4 linked regions of the Homo sapiens genome follow. The protein of the gene in region 1 purifies or fractionates together with the protein of each later gene. This does not show direct contact. Each region holds a gene or a part of one and is shown on either strand. Other genes may lie near its edges.

Region 1 (3,922 bases):
TACCAACAGTGTTCAAGGGCTCCCTTTTCTCCACACCTAGGCTGATGCTCGTCATCTCCTGTCTTTTTCATAATAGCTATCTTAACAGGTATAAGTTGGTATCTTATGGTTGTTTTGATTTGCATTTCCCTGATGACTTATAACATTGAGCACCTTTTCATGTACCTGTTGGCCATTTTAATGTCATCTTTGGAGAAATATCTATTCAAGTAGATAGATGACTCTCATTTCCAGCTAACAGCGTTTCTCAAAAAGGAAGGCACCTGCCTGAGCTACCTCTGGACTACATAGGTATTCACGTCAGTGGGTCACCGGGGCACTTACTGCTGGAGAAGGTGGTTTCTTTCGGACTGGACGACATCGGCTGTGCACAGAGTTGACAAAGGCAGTCTCTCCCATTGAATGTGACTCGGTCTCCGGGTGGAAACGGGCGCCTGGAGGCAGAAAGACATCGCCCTCAAGGTTATTGCAGCAATTTCATTCCTTTTCCTTATTCCTTCTGCTTGCTGCCCTCCGGTGCCCATTTATTTCTTGGAGAAGCAGCAGCCAACATGTCTGAAATGCAGTCATAACCAAGCCAGCCAGCTGGAGACAGTCCAAACAAATAAATGTGCCTCATTTTGAGAAGAAAGGGGAATGTACTGGTTCTAAGGGCAACCAGGTAGTAAAATGGAATGATTTACCTCCATTCATTAGTGAAGGGATATTCCAGCAAGTGATCTAGCAGGGCACACAGAACAGTAAGTTTCCAAATGGAAAGTCCTTCATGAAAAAATATTTTAAATACCATGAATTCCCAGTGAAGCTTAAGGCCCTGCCCCAGGAGACCTGGCTACAGGTCAAGCAGTAAGCAGTGGGTCTTTCAGTTCCCTGGGACCGTGCCTAGACCTCTGTGATGATTATGCAGGATTAGACTTTGTGCTGGACACCTACATGGGTGAACGGAACGTTTCATGGTGCTGGAGACCCAGTCCCTTATAAACTGGGAGAAATGGGACAGGCTGTAAATATCTGTTTAAGAATTCATATTAGCTTCTTTTCAGAAAGACAATTTCTCTTCATAGTAGATATTCATCAATAGCAGCACATTTTGCAAAAATATTGCCTTCTGCATGTAGATAATCAGTTTCTTCTCCCAGGTCACCAGGCAGAGAGCCCTTTAAACAAGTCATTAATGAACAGACATATGACAGTTTCCATGCCCACTCACTTGCCCTTGGCCTATGTACCAATAATCTTCATTAAAGTGATTTTTCAAATGTGTGATGCTGCCAATTAGGAAACGTGAAACTCACAAGCTGAACATCACCACAAATCTTAGTTAGAAGCAATTACTTAAGAGCAAGTACCAGCTTTTTGACATTCATTTTTACTTCCACAGCTGCTACATTCCCTTTAAGTTGCCCCTCAGTAGCCTAACAATTGGCAATTAACTGTAATAAACAACATATAGGTAAATTTGGAGTTAACCCCACAAATGTGGCTGGCTCCAGTCATCACAGAGAGTTTTAAATTCTTACACCCTTACATTTTAGAAGTCCCGAGGAGAGGTGGTGTCCTCTCCACTTGTGATGCTGTGTCACTTTCGGCAGTACAGTGAAGGCTCAGAGAGGTGAAGTGACATGCCTGGACTGACCAGCTAGGGAGATCAAGCCATAGGCAGGTGCAGATGGCATCCACCAACTTAGAACTTGTTTTATTTTTAAGAATCAAAAATCACCCTCTGCTGGATGCCAGTAGCCCTACTGCTTCACACTCATTAGCTAAACCTGAACAAGTCTTAAATCTGTTCTGTAAGGAGGGAGTCAGGAAGTTAAGGATCCATTCAACACAACACGCACAGGTTCTTTTGCCTCCGACCAGGCCAGGAGTGGACCCAGACACAGCGTTTAAAGAGGCACTCGTGCTCCGTGGCTGACCCTGCACTTGCAGGACCCTGAGAATAAGTGCCCTTTACCTGTTGCATGCCCAGAGGCACCTCGCTTACCCCACCCAAGCCCAAGCCTTCCTTCCCATCCAAGCTTATTATTTTAGACCCAAGTCCCACACGAATCCTCTATGGGACAAGCCAGAATCCAGTTCTCAACTTGGGCTGGGCCTTCTGAAGGGTGGGTTTTGTTGTTTTGTAAATGGCCCTTTTCAGTAATTTCCTCCCTCCCTATATCCTCTGCCCATACTGGATAACTTCCTTCTTTTATTTGCATGAATGTTTATAATAGAAAGAGACCTGGATTTAGAGTTAGAAAACCTGAGTTCTAACGTTAACTTGGGAATGTCCCTTAAACCGTGAGCCTCAAAGTCACTCATAAATAGAGATATTAACTCCTGGTTCCCTTCAAAGAATTGCTAAGAGGGTGAAATTAACTTCTGTATGAATATAACTTCTCAACTAAAAAGGAGGCCCCAATTCAGACAGAATTATCGTCATTCGGCAGCAGTAGAGGCAGTAGCAGTAAGTGCTCCTTTGCTGGCTCAAATGTCCAGGGACAGGGCCATAGTTAATAAATCGTTTTTTATCATTATACCAACTTCAAAGCAATGACCTCTCAGGGTCAGGATCAGAAGGGCTCTTAGAGTTTACTGGGAACACGGCCTTCCAACCTGGCTGACTGACAACATACATGAGAACCCTCCAGAAACTACTAAATTAGCATGCAGGTTTTGGGGGAAAATAGGCTAGAAATTGATCTTTGTGGAGAGACTCCCATCTCTAGTCCACTCCCACCCATCCAGGAGATTCCAGTGATGAGCGAGGCTTGAAAAATGACTCGCATCTAGTTCACAGCTTCTCATTCTAAGGTGGAGGCAATTGTCTGGAAAAAGCTAAATCACATAGGTCTCAATTCAACCTGGGAAGTAAGACTGGGACTTGGGGCTCCATGCCAGCCCAGGACTCTTAACCAGGCTGTGTGCCACAGCCTGAAAAGGGAAAAATCAGGGCAGAACTTTGCTTTTGATTAAATACAGAAAAATATTCAGTTCATTCATCCAGAATTATTAAATTATGATTTAAAAAAATGAAATAGAGAAATGAGCTAATACATAGCTATAAAGTTATTTAAATAATTTTATTATGAATATTTTGTGTCTTATTATGATTTATCAGTATTATCTTGTTAATTAATTACACAATATTGAATCTTCCCTTCTAGAGCTTACATCTCTCTGGCTTAGAAACATACAATGCTGAAAAACAGACAACACGTCTCCTCTGAATTGGGGTTTTTAGAAAGGCATAGCAAATAGATCTCCACTTGAAAAGGCACTGGATTGCAAAATTGCCAAATTAGAATTGATCAATAAAGCAGCTGACCCTTGGTGGTGAGTCTCCTAGTTACAGGAATCAAACCTATCTTAAGTTTTATAACATGCAGACCTCAAAACACAAAAACCACAAAAAGCCCCACATTTTCCCACTCACACTTCACATAGTTTTCTTGTTCTCTGACTGATCATTTTATTATTTATTTTATTTTATTTTTTTTGAGATGGAGTCTTGCTGTGTCACCCAGATTGGAGTGCAGTGGCACGATCTCGGCTCACTGCAACCTCCGCCTCCCGGGTTCAAGCCATTCTCCTGCCTCAGCCTCCCAAGCAGCTGAGATTACAGGCACCTGCCACCTCGCCTGGCTAATTTTTTTGTATTTTTAGTAGAGACAGGGTTTCACCATGTTGGCCAGGCTGGTCTCAAACTCTTGAGCTCAGGTGATGTACCTGCCTCGGCCTCCCAAAGTGCTGGGATTATAAGGGTGAGCCACCACGCCCAGCCTGACTGATCATTTTAATCAAGCTGGTTTGCACAGTTAAGATACAACCTTGGTAGATGACAGATACATAGAGAACAGGGTTGGCAAATATTTCCCCCCAAAGATGAGATTGTAAATTTTTTAAGACTTTGCGGACCATATGGTCTCTGTCGCAA
Region 2 (3,922 bases), on another chromosome or scaffold:
CATTAGCAAGCCTGATTCTGCTATAGTCACCTTCTCTGTCAACCCTGCAAACAACTGTGGATTAGCATGAATTGCCGGTAGATGGAATGAAGATGAGGTAGAGAAGGAAACTAGAATTCTCTATCTACGTCACCAATCATTCTAAGAATAAAACATGGAAGCTGTCATTTTTGCCCCACTAAAGGGCTTTTGATGTAGTTTTAGTACAGATAAAAGGTAGTTTTCTGGAAGGCAAGGACTGTCTTTGTATTGCCAGCACAGTGTTAAGCACATAGTTGGTGCTTAATAAATGTCTACTAAAATGTTTATTAGACTGACCTGAAGAAATGAAGAAAAATGTGTAATTAAAACTTTTGCTGGCCAGGCACGGTGGCTCACACCTGTAATCCCAGCACTTTGGCAGGCCAAGATGGGTGGATCACCTGAGGTCGGTAGTTCGAGAACAGCCTGGCCAACATGGCGAAACCCCATCTCTACTAAAAAACACCAAAATTACCTGGGTGTGGTGGTGAATGCCTGTAATCCCAGCTGCTCAGGAGGCTGAGTCAGGAGAATCGCTTGAACCTGGGAGGCGGAGGTTGCAGTGAGCCGAGACTGTGCCACTGCACTCCAGCCTGGGCAACAGAGTGAGGCTCTGTCTCAAAAAACAAAAAACTTTTGCTTACCAGAATGGCTGTGGCAAAGCTTATAAGAGAAATTTAAATTTGGGGGAAAATAGTCTGATATAACTCAATCTTTGTTAATGGGAAGGCAACAGCGCTTTTGAAAAAAGTTGTTTGAATAACCATTCTTGTTCTTTTTTTTTAAGTTTATGATGACGTACTACAAGGAGTCCTGGACTGGCAGTGGGAGGTTGGTGTGGCTGTCATTACTTGACTGGGTAAGCTTGAGCAAAACCTTTCTCTTCTCTGGGTCTCAGATTCCTTACTTACAATATTAGGGGCTGGACTAGGAGGTAATTTCTAAGGTCTCTTTCATCTCAGACTGCATTCTGATGATTTTCTATCACATGTATGACATAAGCAAAGGATAATGAAGACTGGCATATTTCTTTCTACTAACCATTTTAAAAGATAGAATTTAAATCTGTTAATTAGGAAGAAAAAAGTACTTAATTCACCTATGTCCTCTCTATTGGTCTCCTGCATTTCCTGAATCTAAAGGAGACCTTTTAGGCTTTACAATGGACCTATGAAATAGAAATAAATTGAGAGTGATGTGGAGAAGAGAGGTTCCACTAAGGATAGTTGGCTCTCTCATGCTAAAACAGCAATAGGGAAGTGGAAAACAGTACTATAAAAGGCAGTGAACTTCAACTTAAATGACCTTAGAATATAAAGTGAAATCATATCCACAAAATATATCTTCAAGGCAAAATGATGAAGCATTTGTTAGAAGACAGCCATGTATCACCTTCTGGTTGGGCACCAGTTTCTTCTTAGCATGGTCAATATACCCAAATGTAATTTTTTGTTTGTTTGTTCCTAGTGCAAAGGATTACTTAGGAATAATTTTTTAAAAGGTTTATATTAGCTACCTCTAAATTAAAAGTCAAATTTGAAATACCCCTGCAGCAAAAAGCTGACACTATTCAGGTACTGTTCTACTACAGATGTAGGCTATCCTTGAATACTTTATTTTTAGTACTTCAGGGCAGCCACAGGAAGGTATGTGGTGAAGTGCAGTATGGTCCTTTCAGTGAAACATTAGAGAGCTTTCCAATCCATCTAAAGGCTGCGCAGAGTAAAATGCAAAAGCTTAGAGGAATACAGGAACTTTGGGAGTGGGCAGGAGAGGAAAAGATGGAGGGAAGAGAAAAGGAATAAGAATCAAAAGAACTACACTGAAGTCAGGCCTGAATCCTCAGCTCATGTTTTGGTTATGTGAAATATGGAAAATCAGAATTCTGGATCTCATTTTTCTCACCTGTAAAATGGACAGTTGGACTAGCTGATCTCCAAGGTCCCTTTTAGTACTTCCTGAGATTACTCATTCACTTCTACGCGCTTCTAGGCCCCTGCCTTCTTGTTCTTTTTCCAACATAACTGCTGTTTTTGCCTGTGAAAATCAATTACTTCTAGAATGGAAATAGCTACATTAAAAAAAAAATCACCTTTACTTATAATGTAAGGCAAAATGTGTAAATAAAAGTGTCACTCTATTCCCATATATATCATCTACCTATACTGCACACACCTTGTATCTCTGAGAGCAGGACATGGATAATCAGGCTCCAGAAATGTTAAAACCACAAGTGGCTTTCAGAGAAAGGACTTAGATTCTTCTCTTACCAGAGAGTGATCCATCTTAAGTCACTGACAGAGCAGCAAAATTCATACAGTAACTGCCAATAAATCATTCCTATCCTTCTGCTGAAGGACATCAGAGTATGACCAAGGACATTAATTTGCACTTACACCAGGACTAAATAAATAGCCTCTGAAGCCCTGGGGGTCAGAACAGCATTTTGCTGGGTGTTTAGGGACTGGAGTCAATTTCTGCAAGCACTTAAACTTACAACCACTTTCCCCAGCCTGTGATATTTCCTGATATAAAGCAGCACAGGTCAGTATGTGCAGTGACTAAGAGAGTTAGCACCTATGGCAGGGGCCAAAAAAAACCTTGCTGAGTTGGAGAAGAGAGTGCCCTGTTGCTGGGAGTGGACACAGGCTGTTTAGGAGATGATGCGGGAGCAGGGGGCCAGAGTTTGACAGAAACAAAGAGCAAAAGGAAGATAAGGCTGAGTATAGAGAGGAGGACCAGACAGTCAGGGGCTTGACCTTAGGCTGTGGAGGCTGGGTTTTGTCTGGTGGGCAATGGGAAGTCCCTGGATGTTTTAAAGCTGGGGAACATAGTGATAATAAGTCTTCTGGGGAAGAACGGGGAAGAACGGAAGTGGTTTCCAGGATGGTCTGGAGGAGGGAGGTAATGAGAAGGCTGCAGTGGTAGTAAGAGATATAAGATGAAGCAAGAAGTGACTAAGGTTATGCATTATCTGTTACTACCTCCCCTACTCATCAGTCTGGCCTCTCCTCCCACCACTTATATCTTGTCTGAACATTTCAGGCCTATCCTGCAAAGCACCTGGTCTAACACTGCACGCTCTTGGGAATATCTGTCTTCTAACACACTTCCTGCTGTCCCAACTCCCCTTCAATTCTCCAGTGTACAAGTGGTAGGTGTGATGAGGATCTCTTTTTTTTTGAGACGGAGTTTCGCTCCTGTTGCCCAGGCTGGAGTGCAATGGCGTGATCTCGGCTCACTACAACCTCCGCCTCCGGGTTCAAGCGATTCTCCTGCCTCAGCCTTCCGAGTAGCTGGGATTACAGGCACGTGCCTAGCTAATTTTTTGTATTTTTAGTAGAAACGGGGTTTCAGCATGTTAGCCAGGCTGGTCTCGAACTCCTGACCTCAGGTGATCCGCCCGCCTCGGCCTCCCAAAGTGCTAGGATTACAGGCATGAGCCACCGCACCCAGCCAGATCTCCTCTTATTTAAACACAAAATGCTCACAACTCATCTCTTTATTTATTTTATTTTACGTTTTTGAGATGGAGTTTTGCTCTTGTTGCCCAGGCTGCAGTGCAATGGTGCAATCTCAGCTCACCGCAACCTTCGCCTCCCAGGTTCAAGTGATTCTCCTGCCTCAGACTCCTGAGTAGCTAGGATTACAGGCACATACCAAAACGCCCGGCTAATTTTTTGTATTTTTAGTAGAGATGGGGTTTCGCCATGTTGGCCAGGCTGGTCTCAAACTCCTGACGTCAAGTGATCCGCCCACCTTGGCCTCCCAAAGTGCTGGGATTACAGGCGTGAGCCACCGTGCCCGGCCATCTCTTTATATACAAATTTTATTTTTGTCTTTAGTTTGCCTTTTTCCATTACTCTGTTTATGCTGCTTATCTCTCAGGCCAAGAAGTCAA
Region 3 (3,922 bases), on another chromosome or scaffold:
AAAAAAAAAAAAAATAAATAAAACCATACCTTACATGCGCGTTCAGTTACACATATAAGTTTTGAATTACTGACAAATATGAATAGAATCATTTATTTTAATTTTTAACAGAGGTAAAATAAAGCATACTTATCCAAAGGGATAACACATAATACTGGATATTAACCTAAAGGTGAAAAGAAAGAAGGAAAAAAGTAACAGTTTTATTTTTTAATATTTGCTATTTTCTTTAATGCCTTAGTTCTGGAGAAAGGCTAAAATCTCATCATATTGACATTAACACATTTTTAAAAAGTGTCTCTCAAGTGTAATATTTAATAAAACTAGGTACTGAAAAATGTTCTGAAATTTTTCAAGTCAATGTTGTTTTCAAGTATATTAAAATGCTCAGAAGAAAAAATTCTCCATGGTTATAATTCTGATCAATCTATAAATGTACTTTTTAAAAGAGAGTTCCAACAGAGGTGGATAATAGGTAAGTTCCTCAGACACAGGCATACAGTCTTTTTGAAGAAATAGAATGCCTTGTTACCACAACCTGGTTGATTTTTTTTTTTAAACACTGATTTCAGGCACAATGGCTGAATCCACTTCTGGGTCATCTTTCTCCTCCTCTTGGTTGGTTTACAAGAGTAGTGAATACTTCAGTTATGGACAGAAAGAAAGACACAAACTCTGAAACGGAGACTTCACTTTTCACTACAAAGAAATCAAAGTCACTGAGTTCTCATTGTTGTGTGTATCTGCTGCCCCTGTGCAAAAATAGGGGATTCAAACTTAACTTTAGGAGCAAGAACTGGATAAAAGATTCATCTACTGATTCAGGTAACAAGTTTTAAGATGGTATTGCTCACATCACATGAACAGGTTGGTAAAAGGTCCACTGTGTTTCTTTACCACTTTGGTCTTGCTGCAGTATTATGGTGCCCTAGTAGGTACATTCAGGTTTAGCTAGTTTCAGTCTGCGCAATCAGGAAGCAGGTCACTCAGTGCAATGACTCCATTCTGGGAGGATTTAGGGTAAACAGAGAAGAACCTCATTTGGTCGAGTTTTAGATAGTATGTGTCACTCTGCTGGTTGTGTTGTTGGAATTATTTTCCAAAGTGGTTTATGATAAACCCAGCCATCTCCCTGAAACAAATAAAAAGATAAAGAATCATCCCTCTAATATTATCAAAATCAGTAACCAAAACTAGAAGCAACACCTTCACTGAAATGGAATTCTATTTTCACATTCAAAAACAAGTTTTTGTGAAGGAATAAAGTCTTTGTGATTAAGACATCAAACGATGCCTGTGGTTTAGCTAGGATTTAGGTGAGAAGACATGGTATGGGAGGATCTAGTTTGTGACCCATGAACATTTAATTTTGCAAGAACCATTTGTAGCAATTTTGCCAATTTCGCCAAGATGCTACAGATTGAGCCTCACTCACAGAGTTATGGGCAGCAGGTGGAGTACAGAGAAATGATCGGGAAGGTACTAACTGTTCTCCCTGTCTCCACTGGCACCCCAGAACTCATTTTTTTTCTTTCCTTTTTTTTTTCCCCCAAGACGGAGTCTTGCTCTGTCAGCCAGGCTGGAGTGCAGTGGCACAATCTTGGCTCACTGCAACCTCCGCCTCCCTGGTTTAAGCAATTCTCCTGTCTCAGCCTCCCAAGTAGCTGGGATTACAGGCACGTGCCATACCCGGCTAATTTTTGTATTTTTAGTAGAGATGGGGGTTTCACCATGTTGGCCAGGCTGGTCTGAAACTCCTGACCTCATGATCCGCCCGCCTCGGCCTCCCAAAGTGCTGGGATTACAGACGTGAGCCACCGCGCCAGGCCCCCCAGCTCATTTTTCTTTTTTTTTTTTTTGGAGACAGAGTTTCACTCTTGTTGCCCAGGCTGGAGTGCAATGGCGCAATCTTGGCTCACTGCAACCTCCGCCTCCTGGGTTCAAGCAATTCTCCTGTCTCAGCCTCCCGAGTAGCTGGGATTACAGGCATGTACCACCACACCTGGCTAATGTTGTATTTTTAGTAGAGACTGGGTTTCTCCATGTTGGTCAGGCTGGTCTCGAACTCCTGACCTCAGGTGATCCGCCTGCCTCGGCCTCGCAAAGTACTGGGATTACAGGCATGAGCCACCGAGCCCGGCCACCCCCTAGCTCATTTTTAATGATATATAGATGTTCTCACTTAGAAACTCTTCTTTCTTAGAATCTGTTCTTGGTATATCTGCCTTTTTTTTGAGACAGAGTCTTGCTATAGGTTACCCAGGCTGGTCTCAAAAACAGTTGGTATTTATATACAGCCATACTACTTTTAAAAATAAAGATGTATAAGTGATAGCAATTCAACAAAGCCTAGTAAGCTAAAGTTCTCAGCCAAGTAGATACATTTTTATCTTGAACACATGTACAGCATACCTCTTTAATAAAATATTTGGTTTTCCAAGGTGTGCCTGTTTCAGTACGATGCCTTTCTTCAGTCCTCTGACGTTCTTCCAGGGTATGCTTATGCTCTGTGGCCTTATCAATTTCAGATTCTCTCAGCGAGTCTGTCACATTTTTCCACAATCGCCTGAAATCCAAAAACCACACATTTTACAAGCATTCTTTAAAAGAGATAATTAAATAGAATCAATACCCTCAAAATTACAATAATTTTATAAAATAACGTTTCCTAAATCACATCTACAATGTCATGCTTATGAATTCCAAGAATAACGATACTGTGCTGCTGATGGTTATGTCCAGGATGCTGCTCCTTCTGCTTCTTTTTAAATTAAAAATAATTTGTATTTTTCCAGGTTATAAAAGCAGGATTTTTTGTTTTTAGAAAACTTAGAAATTAACGAGTAAAAAGAGAAGTAAATTTTCAAAGTTGAAATGTAAGCAAGACTAATTGTGCTTCTGGACATGATGAAATAATGGGGAACACATTTATTTTCCTGCCTTCATCAACCAGGAAACCAGGCAACATATAATACAATAGTGGTTTTCAGATACTGAGCAAAAGGCAGTGCAGGGCAGTGATCCTTGAGAAAGGAAACAAATGAGGGGAGTCCTATGAGTGCTCTAACTCGCTGTCCAGAGTGTTTCTAGGCCACGCACAGGGAGAGGGAAGCTTAACAAATCTCAAGCAAAAAAAAAAAAAAACAAAAAAAAACTGCCACAACACTTCTTTAGGGAAAGAACTGTTTGTTGAACAAATGGTGCTGGGACAACTGGATATACATGTGAAAAAAATGTAGTAAGTTAAACATAAAACTACCATAAACCCAGCAATTCCACTCCTGGGTATTTACCCAAGAAAAATGAAAATAAATGTCCATACAAAGACTTGTAGGAGAATGTTCACAGCAGTATTATGGATAGGCAAAATGTGATATATCCATACAGTGCAATACTATTCAGCAATAAAAAGCAATGAACCACTGATACATGCAATTAATACTTCATGGATGAACCTCAAAAACGTTATACTAAGGAAATAAGCCAGGCATAAGAGATCACACATTGTATGATTTATATGAAATATCCAGAAAAGGCAAATTTATAGAGACAGAAAGTTAGTGGTTCTCTGGGCTGGGGGTAATGGGGATTAACTGTAAATGAACAAGAGAGATCTTACGGTAGGATGAAAATATTCTAAAACTTATTTATGGTAATGACTGTACTACTCGAGAAAGTTACTAAACATCTGTTTTTTCTTTCTTTCTTCCTTTCTTTCCTCCCCCCTTCCTTCTCTTCCTCCCCTTCCCTCCCTCCCTTCTCTCTCCCTCCCTCCCTCTTTCTCTTCTGTTCTCGTCTCTTCTCTTTTTTCTTTTTTTGAGACAGGGTCTCACTGTCACCATCTCAGCTCACTGCAACCTCTGCCTCCCGGACTCAAGCAATTCTCCTGCCTCACTTTCTTGAGTAGCTGGGACTACAGGCG
Region 4 (3,922 bases), on another chromosome or scaffold:
TTGGGCAACAGAGCAAGACTCTGTCTCAAGCAAAGAAACAAACAAACAAAAACAAAAGCAACAACTAAAAACCAGCACTAAGAACAAAAACGCTAAGTAATCGGGAGGCTGAGGAGGGAGGATTGCTTGAGGTCGGGAGCTTGAGACCAGCCTGGGCAACATAGCGAGACTTCATCTCTACAAATAATACAAAAATTAGCTGGGCATGGTGGCACCTGCTTATAGTCCCAGCTACTTGGGAGGCTGGGAGGATCCTTGAGCCCAGGAGGTCAAGGCTGCAGTAACCTACAATGGTACCACTGCACTCCAGCCTGGGCACAGAGTGAGACTATGTCTCAAAGTAAAATAAAATAAAAATAAAAATAACATGGATAGTGTAATCTTATCTACATGAAAAAAATCTGTGCAAACATACACAGAATGATTTCTGAAGAATGTTCATCTACATTTTGTCATTTATTATCTCTACAGGGCAGGAGTTCACGTGAGTGAATGTTTTTCCTTTTTGGAATTTTTTGATTTTTAAAAAAATAATAAATGTGTTATAAAAAGGTTAAATGCAGCTGCTCGTAATGCAGAGTCTATGTCTGTAACCATCTTTTCTCCTTCCCTTGCCTCCCGATAAAGAGATTCTTTCTTCTCAAAGCAAGTCTCCCTCAATTCCACCGCTCTGTCCCCAAGTCCCCCCATGCCTCTTCTGTCCCTCCCCCTCCCAATGAGCACGGGCCATCCCTGCCTTGAAATCCTTTGAGCTGGGCCCTGCCTCCCACTCTAAGGACACAGCTCCTCCTGCGCCTTTGCTTCTGATCCACTCAGCCCCTCTGGCCCTTGCAACCTGGCCTTCTCTGATCCATGAATCCTGAGCTAACTCTGCTGATCAGCAGTCAACGCGGTGGGTCATTTCCTCCCCCTTGGAACTTTCTCCTCTCAATTTCCATGACATTACCATCATGGTTCTCTGCCTGTGTCCTGGACTGCTCCTCTTGGCTCCTTTACAAGCTCATTTTCTTCCTCCCACTCTCTAAAAGTAGAGGTTTCTCAACATGGGCTAAGGCCACGAGAGAATATCTCCAGGGGCAAGTGGCAAATAGGCCTTCTCCTGACAAACCCTCCCAGGTCTCTCCAATGTCAACCAGACACAACCGCGTGTCCTTTATGGAGCACTCAGGTCCTTTCTGGCTTAGGGCTCCCTCAACTGCAGGCCATCTCTCTCCCCCACCACCAAACACTCTTCCCCCAGGACCTGCTGTCCAACTTTTCCCAGCACTCCTTCCTGCCCTCTTCACTGACCCCATCCAACTCCTCCCCACCCTTCAGCTCCTCCCTGAAGCCTTTCTGAACTGCCCAACTTGAAATGCTCCCTTTCTCTCCCGGGATTCCCATCCAATCTCCCGTATATGCCGTGCATTTGTTCTTTTGTGGCATCTGCCTGGATGATTCGGTTCTCGTCTCAGGTGTGCACGTCTTATTTCTGCTGGGAGGGCAGAAAGCACCCAGGCTTGCCTTCCAACTAGCGTGCTTCCTCCCTAAAAACAGGAACTCCATACATGTTGGCTGACTGAAAAGTGTGGGCTGGGGCAACAACTCAGAATAACCCATTTTTTAGCTTGGGTTCAGGTGAAGGGGAAGGTGTCTCATCTGAACCATGAAGAAGGTGCCTGCAGGTCTCCACCTGGAGACACTGAGGACACCGATGGAAATACAGCTGTGAAGCCCAGAGAGGCAAATCTGGTGCCGTCAGATTTGCCAGCTCCCACATGTCACATCTTCGAGGCTGGGAGAGATTGTTCAGGGAACGGGTGCCAGCAAGAACCAGGAGCCTGTCTGTGGCTGAAACCGAGGACGCATTTCGAAGAACAGCAGCAAAGAAGGAAAGCCAGGAAAAGAGCCCAGCCCACCCCCAAACTCTCTCGCTGGGAACTCCCTTAAGACACTTATCACTGTTAGTCTTTTTTTGAGTGACTTGGGCACAAATCCTATGTGTCCTAGTAAAGAGTAAGCTCCCTGAGAGAAAGGGCAGCATCTGAGCTCTTTGTAGCTTCCTCAGTCCTTAGACATATATAGACATACAGAGCCGGGCACCTGGCAGTCGCCCCATCGCTGTTTGTTGAATACAGGCATCTTTCTGCATGTTTACGGAATGCCTGCGTGAGGTTCTGACGATACCATGGTACAGTACAGATGTGCACACTGAACAGACTTAGTGGACACCCCCTAAGTGCCAGAAACAGACAGAGACCCCACTGTCATGAAACTTACACTCTGATGCCATCCCATGGGATCATCTGGTCCACCTGGATGAGGGGACTGACCCCAGGGAGTACCAGGGACTTCATCCCAGTGATAAAGCTGGCCTATGACAGGGCTGGGCCTGACCTTGGGACTCAGTGCTCTACACACACACACACACACACACACACACACACAATCACTAAATTATACATGATCAAACATGGGCAGTGCATGTATGAGAGCCATGCCCAGCTATGCCACCCTGTACATCAATTCTAACACCCAGAACAGCTGCCTGTCCTTCACGGAAACTGCCAAGCTATCCATCAACCTAGCCTACTGAGAAACAGAAGGCTTTTTCCTCGCTCTCGATGAGCCTTGGGACCTGAGTCTTCAGTTATTAGGCTTACCCCCAGCTAGAGGGCAAAGTGACTGTTTTGGCTGGGGGTGGGAGTGGGGCCGATGTTTGAGGATTTGGAGCCGAACTCCAACATCTGAGCCGCTGGGCTCCCTGGACCCCTCAGTTAGGCTGTCTGGTGGCTCTTTTCACCTTCACCACATCAGCTCCTTTTCTTCTAGCCCTGGCTCCTTCCCGTGCCCCTGGGGAATGAGGTCAGGCTTTCTGGGGCCCCCAGCCTGGCCGCTCATGAGTGGAGATCCTCTCCTCTCGGCCAGAGGAGCGGTGCAGGGCGGATTCCTCCTGGGATTGCATCGCTGTGTTTTCACAGCCCCTCCTCTCCCCACTTCCACCCTTTGCCTAAATGAAGTGGGCACTGCTCTCTGATTCTGGAAGGAGGGGTTGTTTCTCCCACGCCTGAGGAACAGAGGGCTGCCCCCTGCCCTGGCCACCGCAGTCAAGCAGAAGTCTCTCGGGGCAAAGAGGCCACAAGGTGGGCCCGCTTCCAGCCACCTCACCACTGAGTCACTTCCGCTCCCCAAGTGGTGCTCAGGCGCAGAGCTCTTGGGCCTCAGGGACCACCCAGGAGGACAACGGGGCCGAAGAGGGCAGATGATGGGGCCGGGACTAAAGCCCATGTCTTCGACTCTCAAATCAGTCTTCACGGTGCACCAGCCTGTGTCTTGGGCATCTTGGGGGTGGGTCACTCTTACTGGAAGTGTGGAAACAACCCCACAGGTGGCTGCTAATGGCTTGGACAAGCCAGTGGGAAGCTCCAAGGTGGGCCTATCACCAAGGGGCTGGTGGCACCTGAGTGTCCCCTTAGGGCTGCGTGTGAGAGGGGCCAGGTGCCAGCTTGGATCAAAAGAGGCAGCGGCCTGGGAGGCCCTGTCAGCTGGCCGTGGGGCAGGAGGGGCCTCGGGTGGAAATGGCTTGGCTGGCAGAGTGGGCCCTGGCACTCGGCCACCGGTGGGCTGGGCAGCCCGACTAGCGTGTTTTCTTGATCACCTTCCCCACCATCACCGGTTCTCCATACAACATCACATCACATCACGTGTTTGTTTTGAGCAGGGCATGATCCTTTGCCAACAGATGTAATTCGAAGTTTGGTGTGGCCTCTGGAGGAGCACGGGAAGGGTTCTCTGGAAGGGGCTGCCTGCCCTACTCTGCCGGGCACTTTACTTTTTCCACTCGAGTGAGAAAAATCCTGGTTCTTTACACCCCACAGATCCCGGAAGCCAATTATTTGCTGTCTGCCCTGCCATTTCCATCTCTGGTAGAGGGGCGGCTCTT

The links.
Region 2: the proteins of ABLIM1 (region 1) and FAM20B purify together in Homo sapiens (co-immunoprecipitation; one large-scale study listed by IntAct). This does not show direct contact.
Region 3: the proteins of ABLIM1 (region 1) and OSBPL11 purify together in Homo sapiens (co-immunoprecipitation; one large-scale study listed by IntAct). This does not show direct contact.
Region 4: the proteins of ABLIM1 (region 1) and SCARA3 purify together in Homo sapiens (co-immunoprecipitation; one large-scale study listed by IntAct). This does not show direct contact.

What each region holds. Positions count from the first base shown.
Region 1 is NC_000010.11:114,570,973-114,574,894, forward strand, and holds part of ABLIM1 (actin-binding LIM protein 1), read right to left. Parts: intron 435-3,922; coding exon 325-434; intron 1-324. UniProt on the Homo sapiens protein: May act as scaffold protein. May play a role in the development of the retina. Has been suggested to play a role in axon guidance.
Region 2 is NC_000001.11:179,046,278-179,050,199, reverse strand, and holds part of FAM20B (glycosaminoglycan xylosylkinase), read right to left. Parts: intron 1-3,922. UniProt on the Homo sapiens protein: Responsible for the 2-O-phosphorylation of xylose in the glycosaminoglycan-protein linkage region of proteoglycans thereby regulating the amount of mature GAG chains.
Region 3 is NC_000003.12:125,529,449-125,533,370, forward strand, and holds part of OSBPL11 (oxysterol-binding protein-related protein 11), read right to left. Parts: intron 2,567-3,922; coding exon 2,413-2,566; intron 1,133-2,412; coding exon 1,067-1,132; 3' UTR 1-1,066. UniProt on the Homo sapiens protein: Plays a role in regulating ADIPOQ and FABP4 levels in differentiating adipocytes and is also involved in regulation of adipocyte triglyceride storage. Weakly binds 25-hydroxycholesterol. Interacts with OSBPL9 to function as lipid transfer proteins.
Region 4 is NC_000008.11:27,636,820-27,640,741, reverse strand, and holds part of SCARA3 (scavenger receptor class A member 3), read right to left. Parts: intron 1-3,922. UniProt on the Homo sapiens protein: Seems to protect cells by scavenging oxidative molecules or harmful products of oxidation.